Linked DNA regions of Homo sapiens. The protein of the gene in region 3 interacts with the protein of the main gene of each other region in a biochemical or structural test. Each region holds a gene or a part of one and is shown on either strand. Other genes may lie near its edges.

The links.
Region 1: the proteins of KPNA1 (region 3) and OGT form a complex in vitro, tested with the Homo sapiens proteins (one large-scale study listed by BioGRID).
Region 2: the proteins of KPNA1 (region 3) and HIF1A form a complex in vitro, tested with the Homo sapiens proteins (one study listed by BioGRID).
Region 4: the proteins of KPNA1 (region 3) and RBBP4 form a complex in vitro, tested with the Homo sapiens proteins (one study listed by BioGRID).
Region 5: the proteins of KPNA1 (region 3) and NPM1 form a complex in vitro, tested with the Homo sapiens proteins (one study listed by IntAct).
Region 6: the proteins of KPNA1 (region 3) and RANBP2 form a complex in vitro, tested with the Homo sapiens proteins (one study listed by BioGRID).
Region 7: the proteins of KPNA1 (region 3) and PKM form a complex in vitro, tested with the Homo sapiens proteins (2 studies listed by BioGRID).

What each region holds. Positions count from the first base shown.
Region 1 is NC_000023.11:71,560,604-71,564,103, reverse strand, and holds part of OGT (UDP-N-acetylglucosamine--peptide N-acetylglucosaminyltransferase 110 kDa subunit), read right to left. Parts: intron 2,330-3,500; coding exon 2,204-2,329; intron 1,258-2,203; coding exon 1,087-1,257; intron 975-1,086; coding exon 858-974; intron 776-857; coding exon 605-775; intron 1-604. UniProt on the Homo sapiens protein: Catalyzes the transfer of a single N-acetylglucosamine from UDP-GlcNAc to a serine or threonine residue in cytoplasmic and nuclear proteins resulting in their modification with a beta-linked N-acetylglucosamine (O-GlcNAc).
Region 2 is NC_000014.9:61,698,513-61,702,012, reverse strand, and holds part of HIF1A (hypoxia-inducible factor 1-alpha), read right to left. Parts: intron 1-3,500.
Region 3 is NC_000003.12:122,462,940-122,466,439, forward strand, and holds part of KPNA1 (importin subunit alpha-5), read right to left. Parts: intron 1,103-3,500; coding exon 1,003-1,102; intron 1-1,002. UniProt on the Homo sapiens protein: Functions in nuclear protein import as an adapter protein for nuclear receptor KPNB1. Binds specifically and directly to substrates containing either a simple or bipartite NLS motif.
Region 4 is NC_000001.11:32,657,708-32,661,207, reverse strand, and holds part of RBBP4 (histone-binding protein RBBP4), read right to left. Parts: intron 1-3,500. UniProt on the Homo sapiens protein: Core histone-binding subunit that may target chromatin assembly factors, chromatin remodeling factors and histone deacetylases to their histone substrates in a manner that is regulated by nucleosomal DNA.
Region 5 is NC_000005.10:171,394,349-171,397,848, reverse strand, and holds part of NPM1 (nucleophosmin), read right to left. Parts: intron 1-3,500. UniProt on the Homo sapiens protein: Involved in diverse cellular processes such as ribosome biogenesis, centrosome duplication, protein chaperoning, histone assembly, cell proliferation, and regulation of tumor suppressors p53/TP53 and ARF.
Region 6 is NC_000002.12:108,781,982-108,785,481, reverse strand, and holds part of RANBP2 (E3 SUMO-protein ligase RanBP2), read right to left. Parts: intron 3,355-3,500; coding exon 3,081-3,354; intron 2,955-3,080; coding exon 2,620-2,954; intron 1,887-2,619; coding exon 1,581-1,886; 3' UTR 1-1,580. UniProt on the Homo sapiens protein: E3 SUMO-protein ligase which facilitates SUMO1 and SUMO2 conjugation by UBE2I. Involved in transport factor (Ran-GTP, karyopherin)-mediated protein import via the F-G repeat-containing domain which acts as a docking site for substrates.
Region 7 is NC_000015.10:72,203,691-72,207,190, forward strand, and holds part of PKM (pyruvate kinase PKM), read right to left. Parts: coding exon 3,437-3,500; intron 3,191-3,436; coding exon 3,038-3,190; intron 1-3,037. UniProt on the Homo sapiens protein: Catalyzes the final rate-limiting step of glycolysis by mediating the transfer of a phosphoryl group from phosphoenolpyruvate (PEP) to ADP, generating ATP.

The DNA.
Region 1 (3,500 bases), on a different chromosome or scaffold from region 3:
TGCCTTACACTCTCTTGATAGAGCTACTTATTTAAGCATGCAATATATTATTTATTGAGTACATACTACATTACTGTGATTAAGACATGGGCTCAGTAATTCAATTCAGTAGAGGATACAAACACAGGGAATTATCATCTGTTGTGCTGTATGTAATGATATATTCCAAACATTACAGAGGTATAAAAGACAGGTACCAATGAAGTAGGGATGGAGACGTTAGCGGTAAGTACGGAAATGGATTCCTGGAAGAGCTGTCTGAACTGAACGTTTGAGTAGGATTTAGCTAGGGAAAGGATGGGTTTACAGAAGCAAGAAACTGTATGGAATCTACACATAGTTCATCATGTAAGAGAGTAAAGCCACAGGCAGGGAATAACAAGATATTAACACAGCAGTTTCTCAGTAAGTAATAATCTGCTGGCTGAATCCAGGAGACTTTTAAAATCAGACACACCTATATAAGATGCACGTTTCCACTAAACTCATTTCCTCATCCATAAAAATGGTGATAATGATACTTGCCTCCTAGAGTTATCATGAGGTTAAGGGAAATAAATGCATACTTGGCGGGACATATAATGGTGTATTATTATCTTCTCACCTGAGTAGTTGCCAGTCCATTGCTAATACTGAATCCATTAATTGTTATTTGAATCTGTCCTCGGTTAATCATTTCAATAACTGCTTCTGCAATAGTATTCATAGGAATAACAGGCATATTAAGAGCTGTGTTACTGCTATCTGCATTGTCTCCTCCATCAGGACACTTCATCTGAAAAAAAAATGCATCATTAGGGAAAAGATCGTGAATGCAGTTAACTTTATTTCAATGACAATACTGACTAGGTTCTGACCTTGACAATTTTCACATCTGGTAGACTATCAAGAAATGCTTTGAGGTCGATGCCATTCAGAACTATCCGATTGTCATAAATGTGCCCATTGGACTTAAAATCGATGACTGCTTTTTTCTAATGGAAAAAATAGTTTCAGACATGTCTTTTAGGATTTACATAGACAATAGCAAGGAAATAAAAAGCTACAGTTCTTTGAAATTCGTCCATAGCACTGTTTCATACCTACCTTCAGGTGAGGGAACATATTAGCATGATCACCAATAAAAAAAGTGTGGGGCATATAAGCCAATTTCTCGGAATACTGCTCAGCAACTTCAGCTGGCGAAGTTTCCTGATCAGTGATAATATAATCCATGAAAAGCGCACCACTCGTCCCAGGGTATCCCAGCCACATTGCCTTAAAAAAATCAGATCAAAAACTGATTAAGAACTTTTATCAGTACACTTACCTCTAAATTCATCAAGTCACATACATTAAATATGTACAACTTTTTGTATGTCAACTGTACCTCAATAAAGTGGTTTTTAAAAAAAGAACCTAAAGGTGCCAAAATTAAATAAGTAAATAAACAAGGAGGTCTAACTCTTTTTTAGAGACAGGATCTCACTCTGTTCCCTAGGCTGGAATACAGTGGTGCAATCGTAGATCACTACAGCCTCAAACTCCTGGGCTCAAGCAATCCTTCTGCCTCAGCCTCCAGAGTAGCCAGGATTACAGGCACTTGCCACACGCACAGCAAGGCTGACTTCTTTAGCCGAAAGCAATGAAGCAGTTCTATAAGAGAGACTCTTACTCTGTCACCTGGGCTGGAGTGCAGTGGCATAGTGATAGTTCACTGCAGCCTCAAACTCCTAAGCTTAAGCAATCCTTCCACCTTAGCCTCCCAAATAGCTGGGATCACAGAGGCACACCACCACTCTGGCTAATTTTTTAATTTTTTGTAGAGATAGGGTGTTTTGCTTTGTTGCCCAGGCAGGACTCAAACTCCTGGTTTCAAGAGATCCTCCTGCCTAAGCATCCCAAAGTGCTGGGATTACAGGCGTGAGCCACCATACCCGGCCTGTATTTCAGACTAACTTTCAAAATGCTAAAATGTTCTTCAAATTTGCAAGACAGAGTAACTGTTCATAGCCAACCATGAATTGCATGTCTCTATATACATGTACCTATAAGCACTGTGCTCTACACTCTTTTTGTCCTGTGCATTTCAACAACTTAAAAAAATTAAAAGTATGTCTGCCCTACAGTTTCAAATATCAGTTAACCAGAGGGAGGAAAAGCAGCACCTCACTGTATTCTTAGCCAAATACATGTTATAAGTGATGACTGTTAATTTGTTTACCTGAATAGGAGCTGGCCTGAGAGCAAAAAGCTCATTTCGAGCGCCCTTAGTATAGCCATTCATATTTACAAGGATATGAATTCCATCCTGATGGATGCGATCAGCTGCTTTTCCATTGCATGGAATCTACAGAATACAAAATAAGAACTCACTATGTATAATCTCAGATCAATTAGTTTTAATGACATTTAGTTTTAATGGCATTTAGTTTTAATGGCATTTAACATAATTCAGATTCCCAGATGGAAAAGAGGTAAGAACACAAATTAACTACATTAATTCGGGCACAAATATGGTTGACTGTCATTAAAATGGGCCCAAAGCATTAAAGAAACAGAACACAAAGGAAGGAGAGTTCACTTCTGGATTGAATGTATGAATAACAACATATCACAGAGAAATTGGTATTTGAAATTTGTAATCTTTTTTTTTTTTTTGGTAGGGATGGGGTCTCACTATGTTGCCCATGATGGTCTCAAGCAATCCTTCCACCTCAGCCTCCCAAAGGATTATACACGTGAGCCACAGCACCCAGCCTAGAATTGGTATTTGAAAATAGGTCTTCAAAGACGAATAGGAGTTTGAAGGAGTTTAACAGAATACAATCTCAGTAGAGAACAGTATGAATGAAGAACTAGAGTAAAGTGTGAGGGAGTTTAGAAAATGGTGAGTAGGCCGGGCATGGTGGCTCACATCTGTAATCCCAGCCCTTTGGGAGGCCGAGGCAGGTGGATCACCTGAGGTCAGGAGTTCGAGACCAGCCTGGCCAATGTGGTGAGACCCCGTCTCTACTAAAAATACAAAAATTAGCCGGGTGTGGTGGCAGGCGCCTGTAATCCCAGCTACTCGGGAGGCTGAGGCAAGAGAATCGCTTGAACCTGGGAGGCAAAGATTGCAGTGAGCCGAGATCGTGCCACTGCATTCCACCCTGGGCGACAAGAGCAAAACTCCATCTCAAAAAAAAAAAGGGTGAGTAATTCACTTCTATTTAGTATAGGGTATACAAGATGTTGAATGGTGAGTTAAAGTATTGACAAAGTTGTGGCAAACAGAGAAAGGTTACAAAAGCTATGCTGAAGAGTTTAGACTGCAATCAATCAGCAGTGAGTCCCTAAAGGTCTCAGAGGTAGAAAGAGGTATGCTTCTTGGTCACAAAGAGTCCAACTGTGTATCAAAAATGGCCAGGTATACTTTTGAAGCAACAGCTATACTGCAAAATTTGTTAGTACATACTATTTATTAAATGAGAAGTCTCAAAACCTTTCTGCTAGGACTTCAGTGATTCATATATATATAC
Region 2 (3,500 bases), on a different chromosome or scaffold from region 3:
CACAGATTTCTTTTTTAATTTTTTTGAAACACAGTCTTGCTCTGTCACCCAGGCTGGAGTGCAATGGGGCGATCTTGGCTCACCGCAACCTCCGCCTCCCAGGTTCAAGCAATTCTCCTGCCTCAGCCTCCTAAGTAGCTGGGATTACAGGCACCCGCCACCACGCCTGGCTAATTTTGGTATTTTTAGTAGAGATGGGGTTTCACCATGTTGGCCAGGCTGGTCTCGAACTCCTGACCTCAGGTGATCCACCCACCTCGGCATCCCAAAGTACTGGGATTACAAGCATGAGCCACCGCGCCCAGCCCACAAATTTCAAATTCAGCCTACTTGGGATTTGGTCCACTGAAACATATCCAGTTTTATAATGGAAAGGGGGAGGGTAGAAATCATTTTAAAGAAATTTGCTTAGCATCTGAATTTACAAGACTCTTAAGAACAGAAACGTATCCCAACCCTCAAAGACTTCAACTTTCGCCTTTAAACCTTATTTTTAACCATAGTATTTTTCAGCTGGAAAAACAAATCCTCCCAAACTACTTGGAAAAAAAAAAGGGGGAAACACGGGGGACCTGTCCTTAATGAGTGAAAATTGCAATATTAAATACTAGACACTTTTAAATTAATTTGCCTAAATATATTGTGACTTTTCAAACAAGTGAAGAACTACATACAGTAAACTATGTTCCATCACTACATTTTCCCATTTACAAGATAATAAATTTTCAAAATCATATGTTGAAATAATCTTTATGGTTAAAACTGTAACCGGTTAAGGTGAAATTTTAAAATAAAGAAACACTCATAAATAACAGTTGAGATCACCAGAACAGCTAAAAGCTAACATCTTGGGAACAGTTTTTAATAAAAATACATTATTTCAATTATTGTTTTAAATCTTAGAGAACAAATTTCCTAATTAAATTGGGCTTTATCAACAATAGAACAGGTGTACACTATTTTACCCAAAAAGTGTTTCTGTGAAAAAGTACTGGCATAACAAATCTAAGTCACTAGAAAAATTGAATTCTCCTTTTAGAGGTACTTACTCTCCTTTCAGTTAAAGCTTCCACTGGCAAACTGTAGTTAGCTTTCAGCTGGTTAATTATCCACAAACAAGCCCTTAAAAACAATCACTTCAACATATTAGATGGCTACCACTTTGCCACATTAGATGGCTAAGAAAGAAAGAGAAGAGAAGGAAGGAAAGAAAGAAAACAAGTGTTTAGAAGGATGTGGAGAAATAGGAACCCTTGTGCACTGTTGGTGGGAATGTAAACTGGTGCAACTGCTATAGAAAACAATATGGTGGTTCCTTGAAAATTAAAAAGGGTTACCATATGATCCAGCATCCCTCTTCTGGATATGTATCCAAAAAAAGTGAAAGCTTCAAAGAGAGATTTGCAGACTCATGTTCAGAGCAGCACAATAACCAAGATGTGGAAGCAACCCAAGTGTCCGTTGCTGGATGAATGGAGAAACAAAATATGGAACATATAATGGAATATTGCTCAGACTCAAAAAGGAAGGAAATTCTGACACATGCTACAACATGGATGAACCTTGAGGACATTACACAAAGTGAAATAAGCCCATCACAAAAATATTAAAACCCTATAATTCTATTTATATGAGGCATCTAGAGTAGTTAAATTTGCAGAAACAGAAAGTAAAATGGTGGTTGCCAGAGGCTGAGGAGAGGGGGAAATTGGGAGTTGTTTAATGGGTAAGATTTCAGCTTTGCAAGATGAAAAAGTTCTGGAAGTTAGTGGCACAATGTGAATATACTTAACACTACTGAACAGTACTTAGAAATGGTTAAGATGGTAAATTTTAGGTTAATGTTTTTGAACTACGATTTTAAAAAACAATCAAAAGCTATAAGAAAAAAGCCATGAGGTAATCACATTTTTGTTTTTATGAAACAAAAATTTTAAATTTTGTTTTAAAAATTCAGGTTTTAGATACTAGATTTCTCTAAAGGGATCATGTCTGGCAAATAAATAAGGGTTTATAAATTTCTACTGCAGAAAACATGAACATTAATACTCAACGCATATACAAAACAGTTAATTCTTGATGTGTCAAGAGACCAAGAGATATAATTATTTTTAAAATTCCAAAGCCTATAGTTAATTTAAACAATCTGACCATATTTTTACCAAAAATACTGAGCAACAAGAAGCTTGGCTTGTCTTAGTTTCAAATTCTCTTTCTAACCTTCCAGAGTTAAGCAGAAAACACATACACACACTGGGTAAAATCCACCCACTGGATAACTAGTCACAAAGTTTAAAAAATCAATTTCTTGATTGGAAACTCATCCAACATCACATTTAAATTTAGATTTTTTTATCCTGGTTAAGAAACAGACTTATGTTAATCTTAGATAAAGGGATACAGTATTTTAAGTATCTAAATTTAAAAAATTATATACTAAGAGAAGGCATCTATGAACACACAATTTAACCCAAATCTTTAACATCCATGCACATCAATTTTTATTTCACCACCAAACATAATAAACTGAGTTCTTCAGAAAAAAAAAAAAAATCAGTCAAGAGACTAAATAATCCCCCTCAGCTTTCTATACACCACTCTTGACATACAAGAATAGAATGTAACCACAAAATCTAAACCCTGAGCCGTGACACCATTAGAGTCACAGACAATGGCGTTAAAAGTAAAGACAATGGAAGTTAACAGGTAGAAAAGTTGACATTCTCCAAACTGCACAAGGTGCTCTGCAGTGGACCGTAGGAATGAACTCCAATACTTTCTCAGTCTAAAATAACTCGATAGTTCAGTAAATACACACGTGTGGAAGAGTGCATAGACTTCATACAAATTGAGCCACAAAACAGACCAGTAAGACAAGCTTGAAGTCTTGCCTTCAGATGGAACCCAATGGTCTTAACTCTGGAGAAACTCATAAGCAAAGGACAGTTTTTCTACCACGTAGCTGCTTTACTGAGAATATTTTATCAACTCATTATCTTTTACAAAGGTTAATTTTTATAAAATTGTCTAAACTTTGGCATCAAGACGAAAAATGTTTTAACTTACTGCCAGTACTAAGAATGCAGTGTCTTGCACATATCTTGCTTAAATGAACAGTAAGACTAGAATACTGTGTATGTTTGACTCTAGAGTCCAGAGTAAACTCAGTATTCTATTTGGGGAGAAAACACAGGGGTGAGCAATTGTGAAGCAGGAGGCCTCCACTAGAGTAGAGAGCAGATCAGATGCTCAAGAAAAATAACTGATACTAGGTGCCAATATAACCCAAGGATGTACTCTTTTGCCCATTGTAACAGGAAAAAAACGCTTTTCAAGCTCTGGATCCAATGTTAGTCTTTTCACTTTCAGGAGATAGAAAAGATGCATGAAGACACAGAAAAGAAACTAAAGGAAACAGCTGGAAGGACTAGCAAAAAAGAGTTTTAAGAGTTGTGGAAGTTTAAACAAGAATTTTAACAGGTAACATCTATTTTCAAGTA
Region 3 (3,500 bases):
CAGCCGGGTGCGGTGGCTCATGCCTGTAATCCCAGTATTTTGGGAGGCAGAGGCAGACGGATCATGATAGGATATCGAGATCATCCTGGCCAACATGGTGAAATCCTATCTCTACTAAAAATACAAAAAAGGCCGGGCGCAGTGGCTCACGCCTGTAATCCCAGCACTTTGGGAGGCCGAGGCAGGAGGATCACAAGGTCAGGAGATCGAGATCCTGGCTAACACAGTGAAACACCGTCTCTACTAAAAATACAAAAAATTAGCTGGGCACGGTGGCGAGCGCCTGTAGTCCCAACTACTTGGGAGGCTGAGGCAGGAGAATGGCGTGAACCCGGGAGGCGGCGCTTGCAGTGAGCCGAGATAGCGCCACTGTACTCCAGCCTGGGCGACAGAGTGAGACTCCATCTCAAAAAAAAAAAAAAAATACAAAAATTAGCTGGGGGTGGTGGCGTGTAACTGTAATCCCAGCTACTCGGGAGACTGAGGCAGGAAAATCGCTTGAACCAGGGAGTCGGAGGTTGCAGTGAGCCAAGATCGCGCCCAGCCTGCACTCCAGACTGGCAACAGAGCCGTCTTTAAAAAAAAAAAAAAAGGTAATCACCCTGCCCACCAGTAAATGCATTCCTAACTTTCAGTGGTAAATTGCTAACATTAAAATCAACAATCATAACTCTTTCAAGGAGTATTTTTAAAGTCACTCTATAAAAAAAAGTCAGTCTCTCAATTTGAATTAACATGATACTGACTACTATTCACTATAAAGTCTTTTATAAAATAACCCAAAAATGAAAATAATTCTGTTTTCTGATCCTGGTGAGATCCCACAAATAAATAGGAAACTTAAAATTTAGGCATGGTTCACAATTACATATATGTCTGTATTTTTATTCTTTTATTGATAAAAATACTCCAACACAAATTACCTGTGGTATGAAAAACAGACTATGGGAAAGTAATTTTGTAGAGAGATGAAAAAATATACTGAACATATTCATAGCTCACCTTTTGAAAGCAGCTTCCTGAATTTCTGTGTTGCTGAAAGCTGTTGCTCTGGGCTTTTGGAAAATATCATTTCAATCATGTCAGAAGTGATGACACCACCCTGCGATCACAAACAAAAAGAACATATAATAAATTATCACCCTTAATTCAAAGGAAAGAAAGATAACAGATATCATGGCCAAGTTATTAAGTTAATCATACTTCCCCAGAAGTTACATAAAGGTAGGACAATCTTTACATATAGAAACGTGTAAGATTATTAATAATATAATGAAGCCAAATTCTTTGTCTATCATTAAAAAGCTCACAGTAGAAAGTGATCTTACTAGTAAATAAGACAAGGAGCTTATTGCTCTTCCCCTCCTTGCTCATCACATAGCTGGCTATTCTTTCTTATCAAAATTAAATGTTAAGTTTTAAAAGATGGCTTTTCAAGACCTCCAAGCCTAAAGTAGCCACTTTATCTCTATCACAGCACCATATTTCAATCGTATGCCCCAGCCCTTATTACACTCCCAGATATTTTTCTGTGTTCCTCCAGTATACTGTAACTTCCTTGTAAGCCCAAGACCCTGTCTGTCTTACTCTATCACTAAGGGCTGGTGTACTGTAAATGCTCTGCAATACTTATTGAGTGAGTAAATAGAGTGGTCCTGTATAAATCCAGCCACTGCCAAATTCAACAGCTGACTCTTAAACTTATTTAAAATTTCTTTCTTGTTTTATTAAAACTTTCCAGTTTCCCACTACCTTCTTGCTTTATTAGAATGTTTCCATTTCCCACCATAACTCATCCCCAGTATTAGCAGTTAATTTTCTTCTCAGGGTCATTTGTCAGAAAGAAACAAAGTTCTTATTTCATGAAGGGTAGCAGTCAACAAGATGAATTGTGAAGAAAGCTGCACTAAGCTGTAAATGCTAGATGACTGGTAAGCAATACCTAAGAATCCTCATAGGGGAATATATGACGCATTCTACTCAAGAATCAGAAAAGTAACTATTTTCAAAATTGCAAGACTGATTCCTAAATCAAGGTTTCTATATGATTTGTTATGAATATGTTTGCATAAACACATTCATATATATATATACACACATTAAGCAAATATCTTTTTCTTCCCTCTCTCATCCTCTTATAGCAAGCTGTACTGACTTTACATTACACTATTTAAGTATTGTTAACTTTACATTATAATATTTAAGTCACAGGCTATCAAGGACAGGAGTGAACATCACCCAAAGATTTTGCATCCTCTTCCGCAGAAGGAGTTAGTAAAGATGTGCCTCAACTTACAATGAATGGGGTTATGCCCCACTAATCCCATCATAAGTTGAAAATATTAAGTAAAAAGTACACTTAATACACCTAACCTACCAAACTTCATTGCCTAGCCTAGCCTACCTTAAACATGCTCAGAACACATACATTAGCCTACAGCTGAACAAATGATCTAACACAAAGCCTATTTTATAATAAAGTGGTTGACTATCTCGTGTAATTTACTTAATACTGTACTGAAAATGAGAAACAGAGTGACTGTATGGGTATTCAAAATACAGTTCCTACTGATTGCATATTGCTTTCACACCACTGTAAAGTTGAAAAATCCTGACTTGAACCCTCCTAAGTCAAGAACCATCCATACATTTTTAGTTGCACAAAGGAAAGTTGTAATCTGGCTGGGTGCGGTGGCTCACGCCTGTAATCCCAACACTTTGGGAAGCCAAGGCGGGTGGATCACGAGGTCAGGAGTTCAAGACCAACCTGGCCAATATGGTGAAACCCTGTCTCTACTAAAACTACAAAAAAATTAGCTGGGGGTAGTGGCGCACGCCTGTAGTCCAAGTTGGCCTCATCCAATCAGTTGAAACCCTTAAAAGCAAAGACTAGGTTTTCTGAAGAAAAGGGATTCAACAACATCAACTCTTAACCTGAATTTATAGTGGGCCAGTGTGCCCTACAGATTTCACACTTGCCAGCTCCCAAAGACACGAGCCACTTTCTTAAACTAAATTTCTTTCTCTCATTGGTTCTGTTTCTCTGGAGAACCCTAATACAATCCATAAAACACTTTATATTCACTTAACACTCTCTTCTTAAAAAAATTGGAAAGACTGGCTTTCTGAAGGGCCTAGAAACTTTCATCACAAAATGATGGCATTGGCTATGTCTGTATGAATTCCAAAGGAAATAATACTACCCTCCCAACTCTCAAAGAAAGCTGGTTCATGTAAACTGGAGATCTATGAAATGAAATAAAAATAAAAACTACAAAATACTATGAATAGTATGCCACCATTTACCAAAAAAAAAGGTGGGGGAGAGGAGAACATTTTAATATACAAAAGTTCTCAGAAAGAATAAATAGGAATTTAGTAATACTAGTTGCCAATGGAGAAAAATACTAGGTGGCTAAGCGGAAGAAAGATTTTTCTTCATTTTTTTTAATTGTACTTTTTTTGTTACTACAAACAACAGTACCTTTTAGGAGATAATT
Region 4 (3,500 bases), on a different chromosome or scaffold from region 3:
CTTGTATGTTCACTGTAGCATTATTCACAATACCAAAGATACGGAAATCAACCCAAGTGTCCATCAATGGTTGACTGAATAAAAAAATTTTTTTGGCTGAGTATAGTGGCTCATGCCTATAAGCCCAGAACTTTGGGAAGCCAAAGTGGGTGAATTGCAAGAGCCCAGGAGTTTTCAGACCAGCCTGGGCAACGTGGTGAGACCTACTCTCTACAAAAAATACAATGGAAATCAGCTGGGCATGGTGGCGCATGCCTGCAATCCCAGCTACTCAGGACGCTGAGGCAGGAGGACTGCTTGAGCCCAGGAGGCAGAGGTTGCAGTAAGCGGGGATTGTGTGACTGCACTCCAGCCTGGGTGACAAAGCAAGACTCCGCCTCAAAATAACAACAAAAACTCAATCATTTAGGAAAAAAAGGCTGGATTCTGATTCCATACCAAATACCAGAATGACAAAAGTTTTAATGGCCCAAACATAAAAGTCCCAGAAGACAACAATAGATGAACACATACTTTATGAAATCATTGAATGGGAGGTCTGAGGTGGGAAGATTGAGGCCAGAGTTCCAGATCAGCCTGAGCAACATAGTGACATGCCATCTCTTAAAAAAAAAAAAAATTAAGTTATCTGGGTGTGGTGGTGGGCGCCTGTAATCCCAGCTACTTGGGAGGCTGAATCAGGAGAATAGCTTGAATCTGGGAGACGGAGGTTGCAGTGAGCAGAGATTGCGCCACTGCACTACAGCCTGGGCGACAGAGCCAGACTCCGACTCAAAAAAAATAAATAAATAAAATAAAAATCCAGGTATGGTGGTGTATGTCTGTAGCCAGAGCTACTTGGGAGGCATAGGTGGGAGGATCGTTTGAGCCCATAAGGAGGCTGCAGTCAGCTAAGATCATGCCAGTGCACTCCAGTCTGGGTGACAGAGCAAGGCTCCATTAAAAAAGCAACTTACAGCTTCTAACCAATAACAGGACTTAAGATTTTAAGTTAAACAAGAAAATGATCTGCACCTATTTATTGGGTGGAGAAGGTATAATTTACCTTATATGAAGAGGTAACTCAAAAGGAAATACGGGCAAAAAACATAAATAAACAGGAGATGTAAGCTCAACATCACAAATAAAAAAAGCAATGTAAACTTGAGAATGAACTCTACTGAGTCCAGTGTTGGCAAAGGCATGGAGAAACAGACATAAATACATACGCTGTTGTGGGACTTCAAATCTTTTTCTGGAGTGCAACTTAGCAGTATCAATTATATTAAAAAACGGTCCTGCCCTTTGATACAACATTCTACTTAGAAAGTATTTCTATAGCAAAACTATGCTTTTGAAGTCAAAAAATTAGAAACCATCTAAATGTCTATCAGTAAGGAATAGTTAATTATGGTCTACTATACAGCCATCAAAAGGAGGCAGGTCTCCATCTACTAACAAAGATACATGCCCCAGATATATTAGGCCATAAAAGCAAATTATGAACCTATATTGCATATTCTATACCTGGCATACAAAATTACTCAACATATTTGTTGAATGAGTGATCCAATACACAGGATAAATCCTTCAGAAAACAATACATCACAATACATCCATTTAAGTGATATCCAGGGGAAAGGTTTTTCTTTTGTTTTGTTTTTGAGACGGAGTTTCCCTTTTTTTTTTTGCCCAGGCTGGAGTGCAATGGTGAGATCTCGGCTCACTGCAATCTCTGCCTCCCGGGTTCAAGTGATGCTCTTGCCTCAGCCTCCTGAGTAGCTGGGATTACAGGTGCGTGCCACTGCACATGGCTAATTTTGTATTTTTAGTAGAGACAGGGTTTCACTATGTTGGCCAGGCTGGTCTTGAACTCCTGACCTCAAGTGATCCACTGGTCTCAGCCTCCCAAAGTGCTGGGATTACAGGAGTGACTCACCGCACCCGGCCAGGGAAAGGTTTATTATATGGGAGAAGGGGTGCGTTTTTTACATTGTGTGTAAAATTACATATATATGTAAAACCACATATATGTGTGTGTATACATTTATATTGTGTGTGTGTAAAATTACATATATTTTATATATATAAAATTTATATGTATATATAAATTATATATATTACACACAATATAAATATATACACATGTAGTTTTACATATATAATTTATATATTTATATATAAATATAATACATTTATATTATCTAAAATTATATATAACTATATTTTACACACAATATATACACGCATGTAGTTTTACATATACATACATATATACGTATGTTTATATATAAATATAACATTTATATTGTGTAAAATTACACATATAATTTTACACACACAATATAAATATATACACACACATATATGTAGTTTTACAATTTATCACACTACCAATCAGAGTATTTGTGCCTCAGTAACAAGAACAAAAGGCAGGAGGATCATTTGAGGTCCGGAGTTCGAGACCAGCCTGACCAACATGATGAAACCCTGTCTCTACTAAAAATACAAAAAATTAGCCAGGCGTGGTGGTGCATGCCTGTAGTCCCAGCTGCTTGGGAGGCTGAGGCAGGAGAATCGCTTGAACCTGGGAGGTGGAGGTTGCAGTGAACTGAGATCGCGCCACTGCACTCCAGCCTGGGCAGCAGAGCGAGACTCCATCTCCAAAAAAAAAAAAAGGAAAGCGTTTAAGCATTTCATGAGCAGTTAAACCCTTAGGTTATGGCCTAAAAACAGGATATAATTAAACAACTCATTGGAACTTAGTTTCTATACACATAGAGAGTGCCATGGTTAAGTCATTTCTACCACTTTAAACCTAGAAAGGGTAATTTAAGTTAGTGTTTCTCAACCTTTTTTTTTTTTTTACTATTGCTCCTCTAAGAACTCTTTTAAGAACTATTCCCTCCCCACCAGTCCCATGAAATTTTAATACCATAGATATCCTATGTCCTCTGTGCATATCTGTGCTTTAAACAATCAACCAGTAAGATTATTTACACCTACTCACATACACAAACCAATTTTCACCTCCTTAGGGGTAGTTATCTCCCGTGTTAAGAATGTATAGCAATATGGATGGGTGCAGTGGCTCACGCCTGTAATTCCAGCACTCTGAGAGGCTGAGGTGGGTGGATCACCTGAGGTCAGGAGTTCAAGACCAGCCTGGCCAACTTGGTGAAACCCTGTCTCCACTAAAAATACAAAAATTAACTAGGCGTGGTGGCGGGCGCCTGTAATCCCAGCTACTCAGGAGGATGAGGCAGAAGAATCGCTTGAACCCGGGAGGCGGAGGTTGCAGTGAGAGAAGATCGTGCCACTACACTCCAACCTAGGCAATAGAGCGAGACTGAGTAAAAAAATAAAAAATCAAGAATGTACAGCAATAATATATATTTTTGCTTCTTTCAATTGCAGAAATCCTCCCCACCAGCACCAGCTGAGAAAAGTTTATTGTGAAGGTACAGAACCAAGGATGTGTTAAGTATTTCTTCTGATACCTAAAACTCTAATATAAATAT
Region 5 (3,500 bases), on a different chromosome or scaffold from region 3:
GCACTCAAGCCTGGGCAACAGAGACTTGTCAAAAAAAAAAAAAAAAGAATTCTTGCCAGGCACAGTGGCTCACAGCTGTAATCTCAGCAGTTTGGGAGGCAGAGGGAGGTGGATCACTGAAGACAGGAGTTTAAGAACAGCCTGGCCAACATGGCAAAACCCCTTCTCTACTAAAAATACAAAAATCATATCAAAAAGAAAAAAGAAAAAAGAATTCTTACAACTTAGTAAAGACAAAGAGAAGTAAATGGATTTAAGTGGGCAAAAACATTTCTCCAAAGATATATGGCCAATGAATACATGAAAAGATGCTCATTATTAGTCCACAGGGAGACGCAATCAAACCCACAATCAGCACTTCATACCACCAGGATTAGAGTCAGATAATGGCAAGTGAGGGTGTAGTGAAATCAGTAGGTTGGAGTGAAATCAGAAGCCCCATACACTGCTAGTGGGAATACAATGGGTGAGCCACTCTGCTTTAGGTGTACATCCAAGTAAAATGACATGTCTACAAGCGTTCATAGCAGTCAACAAGTAGAAGCAACTCAAATGCTCACCAACTGATGAATAACCAAACATACCCATACAATGTATTCAACCATATAAATAAATGGAGTACTGATAATGCTATAACATGGATGAAACTTGAAAACACTGTGCTAAGAAAACAGTCACAGAAGTCCATTCGTGCAAAATATGAGGGACAGGAAACCTATAGACAAAGTTCATTCGTGGTTGACTAGAGCTGAAGAGCATGAGGGGTAATACCTATAGAGTACGATTTCTCATTGAGGTGATGAAATGTTCTAAAATTGATTATGGTGATGGCTACACAACTATGCATACTAAAACCACTGAACTGCACACTATTTTTTTTTGAGTTTTACTCTTGTTGCCCAATCTGGAATGCAATGGTGCGATCTCGGCTCACTGCAACCTCCGCCTCCCGGGTTCAAGCAATTCTCCTGCCTCAGCCTCCCCAGCAGCTGGGATTGCAAGCGCCCACCATCACACCCAGCTGTATGTTAGCAGAGACGGGGTTTCACCATATTGGCCAGGCTGGTCTTCAACTCCTGACCTCAGGTGATCTGCCCGCATCGACCACCCAAAGTGCTGGGATTACAGGTGTGAACTGTTAATAGGTAAACAATGGAGGGGAGTAATCAAATCGAGTCACTGGAGGGCAAGTCAGGCAGAAGTCTCTATTAGCAAATACCAAGGGGTTCACGTTTAATTCAACAACTGAACGTACTGGTCTCTAAATCCCAATACAGCAACTTCATGTAAGAAACACCTATCTTTCCAATACCGAAGAAATATTTGCTGTATTTAGAAAAAGTATCATAACTTAAAAAGCTGTCACAAATAGCCCTTCAAGTGGCTTTTTAACAGTGATTTTGTCAGTACAAGTTTCTGGCATTAGAACCCAATCCCTGCAGGTGCCTCCCCTGTGCTAGAAACAAGATGAGAATGCTTTTTTTAAACATTTTTTCTTATTTGTTAAAACAAGTCTATTAAACTACTATCAAAATAGCTATCAAAACTACTATCAAAACAGCTTTACTGGCAGGGTGTGGTGGCTCACACCTGTAATCTCAGCACTCTGGGAGGCTGGGGTGGGCAGATCACCTGAGGTCAGGAGTTCAAGACTAGCCTGACCAACATGGCGAAACCCCATCTCTATTAAAAATACAAAAAATTAGCCTGGCATGCTGGCACATGCCTGTAATCCCAGCTACTTGGGAGGCTGAGGCAGGAGAATCACTTGAACCCGGGAGGCAGAAGTTACAGTGAGCCATGATTGCACCACTGCACTCCAGCCTAGCCAACAATGCACTTCAGCCGGGGCAACAGAGACTGTCTCCAAAAAAAAAAAAAAAAATTCAGCTTTACTTAAGAAATTCCCCAAAAATTAAAAAAGACATTTAAGGGCCACATACTATCAACGTATTACATACATCTATGTATAGTATACATCAGCACTATGCACATTACATAGCCTTTCTTGCTTAAATCAAGAGTCATCTGAGCCCACACCATATACCCATTCCATCCTCAAAAAGGAACCAAATTCCCCTTTGATCTGTGTTCAAAAGGTTAGATTTCTAAGTAACTATAACGAACCTTCATGCACCTCTTTGCATTTTCATTGCCATCTATCTATGCTGGGCCCTTGCCATCTCACCACTGAAGTTTCTATTAATATTTGTTTCCCTCAAGGCATCCTTTACTACTATGCAGACCTTAGTACACTTTCTTCAACTTATATGAAAACTTGCGGCGGTGCATGGTGGCTCACGCCTGTAATCCCAGCACTTTGGAGTTCGAGACCAGCTTGGCCAACATGGTGAAACCCCGTCTCTACTAAAAATACAAAACTTAGCCAGGCGTGGTGGCAAGTGCCTGTAATCCAAGCTACTCTGGAGGCCGAGGCAGGAGAATCACTTGAACCTGGAAGGCAGAGGTTGCAGCGAGCAGAGATCATACCATTGCACACCAGCCTGGGGCACAAGAGCGAGACTTGCCGAAAAAAAAAAAATCCCACAAAAAAAACCAGGTACTGATTTGGACCTTGATATCTACACTTTTCATTCCTATCAATGCCCAACTTAAAGACAAACAAAATTACATTGTGGTTACATCATGAATTTATACCCATTTTTCTGAGATGGGAGTCTCCCTCTGTTGCCCAGGATGGAACACGGTGGCGCATTCTTGGCTTGCTGCAACCTCCACCTCCCAGGTTCAAGCAATTCTCCTGACTCAACCTCCTAAGTAACTGGGACCAATAGGCAGGCACCACGATACCCAGCTAATTTTTGTATTTTTAGTAGATACCGGGTTTCACCATGTTGGCCAGGCTGGTCTTGAACTCCTGACCTCAAGTGATCCACCCACCTCAGCCTCCCAAAGTGCTGGGATTACAGGCGTGAGCCACCATGCCTGGCCTAATTATATCAATTTTTAAAAAAGGAAATCTTCCAAAGCCCCAACAGGGTCAATACTACAATCAGGTCCTACTCCAAAGCCTTTCTGGAAGGGATTGCTTGTCCCCGAGCCTCGGTGAATGCTATTAAACACTTATTTTATAAACTTGTACAAAGGTAACTCAAAATCAGACTAAACCAATCCGAACCATACCATCCCTATTTCTAATTTGTGTTTTTAGCCTGTTTCCCATTCTTCTCTTGGAATGTATTTCAATTCTTACTAACGAGAAATATTCTTAAAAGTGATAACCAAACAAGCTGGGCTTGGTTATGCTCCTGTAACCCCACCTGCTTCATAGTCTGAGAGGGGAGGATAGCTTGTGCCCAGAGATTCAAGTCCAGTCTGAGTAGCATGGTAAAACACCATCTCAAGAAAAAAAGTGGCCGGGCACGGTGGCTCATGCCTGTAATCCCAGCACTTTGGGAGGATGAGGTGACCAGATCGCCCGAGGTTAGGAGTTTGAGAATAGCCTAGCCAACGTGGTGAAACCCCATGTCTATTAAAAA
Region 6 (3,500 bases), on a different chromosome or scaffold from region 3:
AAGCACTTGCATTAACTTAAGAATTTATTCTAAAATCATGACGAAGGCATCAACTGTCTCAGCTGAAAAGTTACAACACACTTTACATCAGTTTATATTACATAGATTTCCAAATAAGCCAATTTGAAATATTTAGTGTAAACATATGTAATCCATGGTTCAAGACTGAACTGATACATTTGGAGTAGGTTTATTTCAAGTATCTGGCTTTGTGGCCGAGTGGAATGGTGATGGTATACCATCACTCATTACTCGCACAACATCCCTCCCCTCTTTTGACTGGTGGTTGAACAGTTACTTGCTTTAGGATACCCAATTTCCAAATCCCCATGTAACAGGGAATAAACCTGTCTTTCCTCACTAAATAAAATGAGGTAATTTCACCCGAAAGAACACAGATGGGTGGAAGACAGTCAATATTCATAATTGCAATATACAAAATTTTGTGTTCTACCTGGATTCTTTGTAGTTCCATATTGAGTAGGCCAATAAGAACATCCTCTTTTCTTTAGCAATTTGCCTAACATTTGATACAAGCCATTTCCAAATACGTTTTTGGTGTGTATCAAACTTGAGAAACTAGGAGCTCTGGAAATTATGCAGCAGTTTGAATTTACTGCCTTTAAATTGTCTTCCTTACTTTAGAATGAACCCGAAGCGTAAGTAATGAATTTTTTGGATGTCAGTGGCTCTTAGGAATTGTCATTTTATTTCTGCTACAAAATTTACCAGAAAAAGGTACTGCAACAATCTTGTATAAAGCAAATCTTTAACGAAAGAACATGGTATAGACTTTCTAAAAATATTCATACTTTATCACAATAACTACAAGGAAAAATTCAATTTCTATCATCAGAACCAAGCTGCAGTTTCTGAGGTAGTAGAGACAGATGACAGAAAAGTTTGAAACAAAACCCCTAAAGGAAATAGTCAACTTGTTTAAAATGTAAAAATTAATCGAATATCTATGAAAGGGCACAGGAAGCTAGATATTTTAAGGAAGGAAGGTACGCTACTTACAAAGTTAACTTGTAACCACACAGGAGGTGTAAAGATTCTAGAGAAGAGCACTTTGGTTAACTCTATACGTTCTGTGGCTCTACCCATTCATAAACGAGTCTCTATGCATAAATGAGTACACCAATAGTTAAGATTACCAAATATATTTCAAACCTAAAATTAAATTATCCAAGTTGTGGTCCCTTTATTCAAATGGTAAGTATATCCATGCAGGAAGTCCAAATATCTTAAAAGGAATTAAAATTAAATTGCATATATCATATTCCTTCAATAGTTTGAGGTCTATTGCTTTTAACAAGATTAGTATTATTCCATTTTAATACGTCAGGAGTACATAAACACAAGTACACCTGAAATACACCAGTGTTTAAACTTTTATTTCACACCATGCAAGGTCAATTATAACACATTAAAAAGTGACAACAGCTATAAGCTGCAATTTTACATTTGTAAATCGGAAACGTCCATTTTCAAAAGCTGAACATAACTATCAAATTGTAATAGCTAAGCTTCAATCCAACTGCTTATACAGATGAAATTTTCTATGAACAACAATGATTTTATATCTGTCCACATTCTGTGATAGTTATTCTTCGACAAACAGACCCTTTGGGAGAACCAAATGATTCAATCTTTTTCACAGTATCCATGCCATCCTTAACAAACCCAAATACTACATGCTTAAAGTCCAAATGTTCTGCTTTCTTCAGTGTTATAACAAATTGAGAATTATTGGTATTCTGGCCTTGATTGGCCATGGATAGTAAACCAGGACCAGTATGTTTCACATCAAAATTTTCATCTTCAAATTTGTCTCCATAAATGGACTGTCCGCCTGTTCCATCATGTTTGGTGATATCTCCTCCCTGAAAAAAAGATTTATAATAAAAAAGTTAAAAATTTTTTTCAATTAATAGGAATCCTGAGTAAAATATTAAAATACACACAGAACTCATCACTACATGTTAAATCCTAAAGCCCAGCTTTCCTGAGTATAGTTTGAAAACTAAGAAATTCATATTGTTGGAAAGAAGATGAAAAATGAAAAGGTTTTTCCCATCCCTTAGTTTCTACTAGATCTCAAGTACTGAAAATTTGATTTTTTTTTTTTTTTTTTTTTTTTTTTTTAATGACAGGCTGTCTCACTCTGTCGCCCAGGATGGAGTGCAGTGGTGCAAACCTAGCTCACTGCAGCCTTGGCCTCCTGGATGCTCCCACCTCAGCTTCCTTGTAGCTGGGATCACAGACGCACACCACCACACCTGGCTAATTTTTGTATTTTTTTGTCCAGACGAGATTTTTGCCATGTTACCCAGGCTGGTCTCAAATTCCGGGGCTCAAGCAATCTGCCTGCCTTGGCCTCCTAAAGTGCTGGAATTACAGGTATGAGTCATTGTGCCCAGCCTCAATTATTTTAGGTTGAAAGTTTTAGGCAGGAGCAGGGAATGGGTAGTGATGCCATGTGATTCCATGTGTGGAAAACCTAAAGAAATCTTTAACAAAACTACAGGATGAGGTCAAGGAAAAACACTCAAATTTCCCATTAGTGTGGTGCACTCTTCAAGACCTCAATTGTGGTATGTACTTAATAATACCTACTTGGCAAACAAAATCTGGAATTACTCTGTGAAAAATGGAATTCTTGAAACCAAAGCCTTTCTCTCCAGTGCATAGTGCTCTGAAGTTCTCAGCAGTCCGAGGAACAATGTTTGAAAATAATTCCATAGTTATCCGCCCTAGAGGTTCACCGTCCGCACAAACATCAAAAAACACCACAGGATTGGTCTCCTTTGATAATTCTGCTGCCAGTGATACATGTCCTTTCTGGAGTTTCATTAAATTCTGCTGACATTCTTCAAATGTTTTCTTGAAACAATCAGCTACTTCTTTAGTTTTAAATCTCACTGCAAGCTGTTCTACTTTTGCTTCTCCATCTGGCAGGGAGGGAAAGGGGAAGCAGTGACCTTAGTATTAAAATAACTGTTATAAGTTGTTTTGTTTGTTATAGATTTTAGAAAAGTCCAAAAAATGAAAAGTAGCATTTGAATGTAAAAACTCACCAGCATAATCTGAGGCAGTCCAAACTAAAGCATTATTTGAAACATTTAAGGGCTTTAATTCCATTGTTTTAGTAATAACGTGGTTTGCACACACTTTAAAAACCTGGTCTCTTCTCATTAGGATCCGGTAATAATTCTTCATTGTATGCCAAAGAATCTTTATATCTCCAACACCGCGCTCCTTCCACTGACTGACATCCCGATCCCATCTATAAAGTTTGGCTCTCTCTTTAAACAAAATTTCTTCATCTTCTTCTCCAGATTTTACTTCTACCTATAATAGGAGATGAAATTCTCTATAAGCTGCTGCTTATAATAAATTCCATGACAAATTTCAAAGATCCAAATTCTTTTAAGGCATTTTCTTTGTGATGACAAAGAGAATTTGTTAATGTGATAACTGGTTATATATCTTAGGGC
Region 7 (3,500 bases), on a different chromosome or scaffold from region 3:
TGCCATGGCAACAGATTGAGCAGCGCTGGAAAGCTGGGATCAAAGCCAAAGCAAGGCAGCTCAACTGAGTTTGAAGCAGGAGAACAGAAAACGTGGGCTAACTTGTGAGAGGCACACTGAACAGCCATGTGAAGAGACAGATGCCTGTGGAAGCATGCAGATATATTTAATAAGACACTTGATTAAAATCTAATAATTAAAACAGTCATGAGAAAGCCACTGAGTTATTTATAGATCACTTGCTCAGATAAGACCAAGAATCAGAAAGACAATGTAAGCTTTAGAGGATTATAATGCAATCACCAGCATCTCAGTAAATGATGGGTGAGGGAAGAATCGGTAATACCCCCTCATCAATTTCACAGTAGAAGCAGATGTGTGGCAGGATGTACTAGGTTAAAGGTATTCTTTCTGTAAGAACGGAATGCATGCAGCCCAGAGGACAGGGGACATGAACAGGAAACAGAGCCATACCTGGTACTGCTCTTAGTTATGGGTCATAAACTGCATCAGTTAGACACAGGAGAAAGCAGTGAACAGTTAATGGAAGGAACTGTTGGCCAGTGTTAACTGGTGACACAGAAAGGAAAGGTCTAGCCACCTGGAGGGGCAGCTACAGCCTAGCCCAGACCTGTAACTTATCTTCTGAGCAGTGCCATGCAATCCAAACCTTGCAGCCCTAAAGTATCTATCTGTTCATAGGAAACACCAGGGTATGGAAGAAAGGATATGGAATTTAGACCCTGAGCCTGAATCTTAGTCTCTGACCCCACTGACAGGCTCCAAATGGAGACCTGTTCTCATCTCCTGCTAGACAGAGCATGATGTTGCAGGAGAGAAGACTGGCTTTGGAGGCAGTAGACCTAGATTCAAACCCAGGCTTTATTGGCCATATAACCCTCATCTATAAATGGAGGTAATGGGAGTTAGGAAGATTACATCCATGTACACAGAGACTTATCAGACACTTAATAATAACAGCAATGAATATTTAATGCTAAGGCTATAATTAAACATATCTAATCCATTTTACAGATGAGGTCTTAAGAGGTTAAATGACTTGCCCAAAGACACATTCAAGTCCCCACATTCTATGCAGTGATTTCATGGTTCAGTATATCTAAGTCAAGATCAGCCTCTGTTCCTCCTTTGAGACCATGAAGTCACACGATTAAGTAGGGAAATTAGAGAGAGGGGATGTGTGGAGAGACCCAGAAAGGCAGCCACTTTAGTGGTGACTGGTTCAAGGTGCACCGTCTCCTGGGACACCTTCCTACCATGGTGGCAATTGTGAGACTGCGCCAAGAGTATCTAAGCATCAGAACAGCAATCACATCACACGAATGGTGAGGTGTCAGCCAGGCCCAGTCTACATTAAGTGGGCCTGGGAGAGAAATCACTCTCTACCGATTTTTTTGTTTTTTTTTTTATGTTTGTTTGGTTTCTTTTTTGAGACAGGGTGTCACTTTGTCACCTAGGCTGGTACCATCTTGGCTCACTGCAACCTCAACCTCCTGGGTTCAAGCGATCCTGCTGCCCCAGCATCACCCCCTCTCCAAGTAGCTGGGACTACAGAAGTGCATCACCATGCCCAGCTAGCTAACTTGAATTTTTAGTAGAGACAGGGTTTCACCAGGTTGCCCAGGCTGGTCTTCTGAGCTCAAGCAATCCACCTACCTTGGCCTCCCAAAGTACTGAGATTACAGGTGTGAGCCACCATCCCTGGCCTCTACCAATTTAAATATGGGGAAACCCACTAAGGATGCTGATGACAGACAGTCCGGAAAATATCCTTAGTCAAGTGTGAACTCAGTTCGCTACTGAAAGAGCATTTAATAGAAATGACATCTCTTCTCTGAAAGCTGTTTAAGCCCAGTAACAGGATACATAGTGAAAAAGGAAAGGAAGATGCCCAGACCAGATGGGTGTTTTAGTTTTTTTTTTTTTTTTTTTTTTCTGTTTTTTCTGGTGGCAGGGGGTGGCGTTTTAAACTTGGGGGCTTGGAGGGGCTGAGGTCAAAGGGCAGCGGGTCTTTCACTGGCTAGAAAGGGAATAGAAAGGCTGAAGGAAAACCATATCTGGATAAAGTTTAAGTTCACTGAGCATGACCTAAGACTACTGGGAGAAAGTTAATTTCCAGCACTCATTTTACCAAACCTATGTAACCCTGATCAGGGATCCCTGAGTTAGCTCCAGAGCTGGAACAGACAGGGCAAAGGGACTGAGCCTCCAACCCTGAGCAGTGGCCAGGCACTCGACATGACAAGCTGGAAGAGCCTGAAGAACGAGCTCTCAGAGGAGAAAGAAGGGAAAGAGCCTCCACGACTCCTCCAGACGCTCAGTCCAGGGCCGCCAGGGTCAGCCACCCTCCCCGCTGTCTCTATCTGTGGCCCTGCCACCAGTCACTCAACCCGACTTTTTGGTCTAGAGTAAGAGCAGCAGCTGTACCCCAATGGCACAGCAAAGCAAATCCCCCTACAGGCACCATGCAAGGCCAGCACAGGCAGCTCAGTGAAGGCAACAGACTCCAGTGCAGGTCCACAAGGGCCCCCTGCGGGAGCGCCTGTCTGCAGGATGCGGGGCAGAGGGAACTGAATTGGAAGCCAAAGGAAGAGGGCAGCTGGGAGCAGGAGCCCCTAGCCCTTTTCAGAATAGGGCAAAGGTACTCAGAACTTCTGACTCTGAGGAAGAGGTACAAGACCTCCTTTCACTGCAGAAGTATCCCAGGACTTAAGCCATGGGAAGAATTCACAACCTTGAAGTCAGAAGTGAAATAAACTGTGTGGTGTCCAATGAAGGAGGATGCCTCCAGAGCAGAAGGAAATGGAGGGGTGGGGGTGTGGGCAGGAATGCAGAACAGGAGAAAAAAAAAAGCCACCTCCACTTCCACCCCCACCCTCTTGCTGCTGTAACTTGGAGGATAATGAAAGGCTGTGCATAAGAGGATGGAGAAACCTAAAAAGCTCTGCACCAGAGCTTGCATCCATCCCAGGCCCAGTCCGAAGCCCTGGGGGATGGGGCAGGCCCCAGAACTCACCAGGTGCTGCATGCGCACAGCCTCCAGAGGATAGTCCCCTTTGGCTGTTTCTCCAGACAGCATGATGCAGTCGGCTCCATCCAGGACTGCATTGGCCACATCACTGCCTTCAGCCCGAGTGGGGCGGGGCTTCTTGATCATGCTCTCCAGCATCTGGGAGGGGACAGAGCATTAGTGAGATGTAGCTTGAGCTGTCTTCAGAGACAAATGACAGCAAGCTGATCCTCTGGATAGTGAGTAGGTACACAGAGTATGGCTTTGTGTAGGTACATGGGGGAAGGGGATTATCTGTGTGTTACGTGCGACAATTCCATGGGAAGAGATCAGACAGCCTCCAGAGCTTTCCCATACAAACATGCGAGTGTGCACATGAGAATGTGGGGAAGGGTGGGCACATGCCTGAGTAGCACAGATGACAGGCTTCCCAGCTCGGTTGCACCGTCCAATCATCATCTTCTGAGCA